2 separate regions of the Homo sapiens genome follow, and region 2 is linked to region 1. The links come from fine-mapping of genetic effects on gene expression. A gene starts in region 1. The other region holds a variant in brackets. All regions are shown on one strand. Distances are from middle to middle.

The links. PIP is the estimated chance that this variant, and not a neighbour inherited with it, causes the effect.
Region 2: its variant is fine-mapped to the expression of FRS3 in sun-exposed skin (GTEx, PIP 0.96).

Annotation. Positions count from the first base shown.
Region 1 is chr6:41,778,297-41,781,197 of GRCh38, forward strand. FRS3 (fibroblast growth factor receptor substrate 3) reads right to left here and starts at 1,604. Exons shown (of 7, transcript NM_006653.5): 1 at 1,520-1,604. It overlaps PRICKLE4 (prickle planar cell polarity protein 4), which reads left to right and starts at 2,486. Exons shown (of 8, transcript NM_013397.6): 1 at 2,486-2,530. RefSeq lists silencers at 1,330-1,479, 1,510-1,919, 2,200-2,269.
Region 2 is chr6:41,758,410-41,761,310 of GRCh38, forward strand. No RefSeq gene overlaps it. Among named protein-coding and RNA genes, the nearest start is that of PGC, 12 kb to the left of the region's middle. The variant G/A (reference allele first, on the strand shown) is at 1,338.

The sequences.
Region 1 (2,901 bases):
AAACACCAATGAAGAAAGTAAAATCAAGGGCAAAGGGAGCACAAATCCCAAGCCCCACGGGCCCTGAGAGGGACAGACACCAAGAACATCAATAAGTTTGAAGTCTAAGACGACCAAAGACCTTTTAAGTCACTTTAGATCTCCCTCTGAGTCCTGTTACAACAAACACCAAAACCATCACCTTACCTTTGCAGAGAACTTTAACTCTACAAAGAGCTTTCTCAAAAGGACACTGTGATATAGTAGAGACAGCACTGGTTTAAGACTCAGGAAACCAATATATCGGTCAGTTTTGTTGCTACTAAGTATCTGGGAGACTTAAGTCAACGCCCCCCCCAACTCCCACCTAAGGCCTTAGTTTTTGGGGGAACCATCTATAAACTGGGGAGCTTCTAGCTTAAATAACTTGCAGAGGTAAAAACGTAAGACAAACTTCACTAAAATTGACATGTTCATCTTCCAAGACAGGCTGCTTCAATTTCGCATTTGGAAGCTTGATAGATTTTCTGCTCCCCAAGCTCTGAAAGGCCTAATTTTAACATAAATGTTAACAGTAAGCCAAAATTTCAGGATATCTGAGCCCAAGGTAGACAAGTCAACAAGCCAGGACTCTGCAGACCCTGGACATCCCACATTCCTGCTCTGGAGAAACACTTCCCAGGGCCCCTTGCACCCTGCATCCTTGGACAACTTCCAGGTAAAAGGACCCCATCCCCTTGGTCTGGCTTATTTTCTGGAAGGAAGAAGCAGGCTCAGGGAGGTGTGCACAGACTAAAGATAGGTTGCTGGGAAAATACTGGGGCTTGAGCCACCGACGGGGGCACGGCGCGGGCACTGAAACGAAGAACTCTAGGGTGCAAGATGGGGGAGGGGCTGAATTTCCCTATCACCATCTCTTCTCCTTAAGATATCAGGATGTATCAGATAGCCCACTGAGGAGGGACTGCATTGAGTGGAAATGGGGAGAGGCCTCTGGTCTGGGATAGGTATGGATCAGGGGCAGGAGTGAGAGGGGGGTGTGGGGGCTGAAAACGTATGAGGACGTTTGGGGAAACATGAGCAAGAATTTTGGATGTGGGCATTTTGGATAGTGCAAGGAGAATGGGGATATGAGGGATCCTAGGAATTTCCGGGCAGTGGAAGCATTTGGGGGCATCCAAGAGAAATGGTGGGTCCGTGGGCATAGCAGGAGATTTGTTGAGTGAATGAGGGGGTTCTGAGGGCTCCAGGAGATGCGATGATGTGTCCAGGGCGGAGAGGGTAGAGGTGGGTTGGGGGAGCCAGAGGCTGCAGGACAGGCTACAGGACTGTCAAGGGGAATTTCTACATGCCCGTAAGGAATGAGGAGGTCTGGGTGCGCGCTGTCCCCGGATCCCCGCCCCCAGCCCCGGTGCTCCGCCGCCTGCCCGCCCGCCCGGGGCTTCCTAGGGAGGGAGTGGAGACTGCGGCGCGGCGCGGCGCGGCGCGGCGCGGCCTCGGTGAAGCCGCCTCGTCCCCGCCCCGCCGCGCCCCGACTCACATCGCCCCGCGGCCCGGGCGGCGCCGGGCCCCGCTCCCGGGTCCCGCTGCAGCAGCCGCCGCCCGCCCGGAGCTAAGGCCTCCCCGCCCCGCCCCGCCCCGCGGCCGCGGGGTCGGAGGTCACCGGCAGCACCAACGAGACGCTGCGGGCTGGCGGACCCGAGCGGGGGCGACCGGCACGCAGCCTAGAAGGTCCCTTTGGAGGACTTTGCAGTCGGGAGCAGTGAGCATGCGCAGACGCCAGAGGGCGCTCCTGGCCAGGGGCTGAGCAAGCCCGGAGGGGACAGGGCGGAGCCTGCGGCGGAGGCGGGGCGCGGAGGCGGGGCTGAGGACACCAAAGTTGGGGGTGGTCCGGGGAGCGGAAAGGGGACGGAGGGTTGGGCGAGAAACGAAGGGAAGGGGAGAGGGTCTGAAGGGACCTGAAAGGAGAAGGGCAAGACGATGGAACCTGGAAGAGGGTTGAGGGGAGGGGAAGGGGCCAGGGGGACCACTGGGGACAAGGGGGAGAGAACTGAAGGGAAACACGCGGAGGAGCGGGGCTGGGAGACCACAGGGAGAGTTTGGGGAGACCTGGGAACTGCGGAGAGACAGGGCTGCGGGCCCGGCGAGGCGTTTCCATTCAGCGAATGGTTGAAAACCCAGCGTAAACGCGGCTCCCGGCGTCTGCTGGATGCCTGCCGGGCGCAGTCCGAGCCAGAGAGCCCTTGCACCTGCATGGCAGAGGCCATGGAGCCCGCACATTTCCACCCTGAGATCCCATAAATGTGGTTTTGTTTTCCTTTTTTTTTTCCTCCCCCCAATCTGCAGCTCCAGGCCCCTCCCTGAGCCGCCCCTCTCCACCAGCCGGGGAGGGGCGGGCGGGGGCCGCTGGGGCGTGGGAGAGGAAGGGCCGCGCTATTAGGGCGGGCGGGGGCGGACGGGGGCGGGCGCTGAAGCCTTGGGGTGGGGACCGGGTGAGGGGCCTGACGGCAGAGTCGGTCCAGAACTGCCCGGACAGCGACGCACAGCGAGGGTGAGACCCCAGCGGAGTCCTGGTCCCCTCCCCTAAAATCCCAGCAGCCAGACCGGGAACCCCAGCGGACTCGGGAAACACCGCGTCCCAGCCCCGGAGGCGGGCCCGCCAAGTTCCAGAAAAACTCTGGGGATCTATCGAGAGGGCAGTTGGCGGGACTGGGCACTCCCCTTCCTTCTCCCTCCCACTGTCCCCAGAAATCTTCCCATCCCTCCACCTCCCCAAGCCCTAAGTCCTCTCGGGCTCTGCCCTTCAGGGCAGCGGGTGTTGGGGATGTCCAGCTCCTGAGCCCTCTTGCACGGAGGCTCTGCACGGAGGCAAGACAAGGGGTTCAGCTCTGTCCCTTATCTGAGGTGGGAGGGGGAAGGGAA
Region 2 (2,901 bases), 20 kb before region 1:
GTGTATAAGCCTCTCTCATTGATGCCTGACATAGTTGAGATGTTTGTTGGCAGGGTCAGGCTGGAGTTTCTTCAGGAAGTCTGAGAGTGAGAGCCGCTCCTGCATTTCTTTAGCAGGACCCTGGCAGGTGGGAGTTCAGCTGATTTCACTCATAGCCCAGTTTCTCTTAAGTCCAGCCAACCACGAGTTAAGGCTCTCCAGCCAAGGTTAGCATGAGGCCTGGGGCTGAGATGGGCCACAGTCTCATTGCTTTATTTAATCATCTCTTGCTGCCATCAGTGATGGATTCAGTGGAGAGACAGGGTTGAACGTGACGTACGAGAGCAGGAAATCTAATCTGCTCCAAGAGAAATCTAATCTAATCCCTGGATCCAGGGAAGGAAGGAACTCCTGAACTTTGATGTCTTTCAAGACCCGGCAGGTTAGCCAGGTATGGTGGCATGCGCCCGTAGTCCAAGTTTCTCTGGATGCTGAAGCAGGAGGATTGCTTGAGGCCAGGAGGTTGAGGCTGCAGTGAGCTATGATTGAGCCACTGCACTCCAGCCCAGATGACAGAGCAAGACCCAGTCTCAGAAAAAAAAGACCAGGCCTGGAGGACACTCACACTTGACACCCCTGTCCCCACCCCTGATCACCCCCTGACTCTGTACCAGAGCAGCCCTTCAGAGAAATGGAAGCCAGTGACGGCAAGGAGCAGCCGCTTGCTCATGGGCAGCTTCTACCTCTTCACCAAGGCTGGAGGGAGAGACCCCACCATAGCCCAGCCATGAGCTTAGGAAGCAGCAGATCAGGGTAGAGGGGCCTTTATTGAGGAGGAAATGGGAAGGCAGGAGCAGCCCTGAAGAAAGCAGGGGGAATGATCCAGGCAGGGGAGGAGTGTGGGCTGGCGGGGGTCTGGATAGGACTCTTTGTAGGGAGCTCCCAGACCTGTTCCAGAGGCGCCAGGAGGAACCCATGCTCCTTTGCCTTGTTCTCCCAGTACCCTGTGGGAGTTGGAGGGGCAGCAGGAGGCAATGCAGGTAAGAGAGGCCATGAAGGAGGGGTTGTTTGGACTGAGCTGGATGTGGTCCCAGACTAGGTCTCTCTGGGTGGGGTTGAGAATTGGGTGGCAGAAAGGGGAGAGTCCAGTGTCCAGGTTCCGGCACATCAAACGCCAAAGAACGTAATCACCAGGGCCTGGATAAGGAGCAGGAACCGAGCCTAATGCAAAAGTCCCAAACCAAACACTGATAATGGGCTCAGGAGGCTCTAGGCCTGGACCTCACGCTTCCACCCCGTGGCCCCTAGTCAAGCCTCATATGGATACGGTTACAGTCCCAGGTCCTTGGAGCCAGCTC[G/A]GATCCTGGCCAATCTAGTTTGGGTTCTGGAGAGGTGTGCCTGTGAGCAGCAGTGTGCCACTGGCCACGGCTCTCCCTGTGCTCAGGGACTCCTAGTGTGGGACACCAGGGGCCCATGACGGGGGCTGGGGCTGAGCAGCCTCCAGAGGGATGCCCCTTGGTAGGTATGTATAGCACATCAACTCTTCCCAACATCCCAACATCCAGAGGGACTGGCTCTGTGTGCCCATTGTACAGTGTGGAAAACTGAGAACTAGAGCAGATAGGGGGAACCCCAGCCTCAGGGGGTCTTCATGCACCCCACAGTGATGGGGAAGAGAAAGGATCCAGAGGCCTTAGATGAGCCTTAAAGCCACCTGCATTGACTTCCTGCCTGAAGATCCCCTTTTGCTGATTCTGAGGTTACCTGGGAGGTGTGTGTCTGACTGTGCCTGTTTCCTGCCAAGTCTGGGGACCCTCCCCCAGCCCCGCTCAGATTCCAGGGAGCTGAGTCTCTGATCCTAAAGTTCCAGGAGGATCTCTGAGAATCTCCACTTTTTCCCTTTGTAGGAGAATGTTTCACTGCTGCCTAGTGCTAGGACCGAGGCCCCAGGGGCTTGTCCTCCAGGGAGTCTGTCTCACTTCTGCTGTGCTCTCTCTGCTGACTCCCCAGACCTGCTCTGGACATGAATATGCCCTTCCACCCACAGCACTGCTGCTGCATGTCCCAAAGCCCTGGGTGTGTGGTGGGGCTTGGCATCCAGGTTACACTTGATCACAGGTCCAGCAGACAGCAGAGACCAAATCACAGGGACAGGAGCAGTGAGATGGGGCCTCCACAAGGCCTGGCCTTGCCCTCAGGAGTTCGGGGCTGGTGGAGTGCTTGGCGGTGCCTGAAGGACCCTGCTCTGCAATCTCTGGCTCCAGGGATGGGTCACAGTGTCAAGGGAACTGTCCCCCCAGGCTTCCAGCTCAAATCTGCCCCTCTTACCCCCAAATTCCTTTCCCATATTAGTAAAAGTTTTCTCTTCTTCCAGTTGTCAGACCCCAAACCTCAGAGTCCTCCTTAATCCTCTTTTTCCTTTTCCCATATCCTACTTATATTTCGATTGTCAATGCCCTATTGGGTCCACCTTCAGAATACATCCCAAATCTGTCCACCTCTCCCCTTTTCCACTGCCACCACCCAATTCCAAGCCACCATCATCTCCCTCTAGATTATAGCAGTAGCCTCCTATCCTAGTTTGGGCTGCTGTAGCAAATTACCAAGTACTGGGGTGCTTATACGATAAACATTTGGCTGGGCGTGGTGGGTCACACCTGTAATCCCAGCACTTTGAGAGGCGGAGGCAGGCGGATCACCTGAGGTCAGGAATTCAGGACCAGCCTGACCAACGTGGAGAAACCCCGTCTCTACTATAAATACAAAATTAGCCAGGCATGGTGGCGCACACCTGTAATCCCAGCTACTTGGGAGGCTGAGGCAGGAGAATCGCTTGAACCCAGGAGGCGGAGGTTGCGGAGAGCCGAGATCGCGCCACTGTACTCCAGCCTGGGCAACAAGAGCAAGACTCTGTCTCAAAAA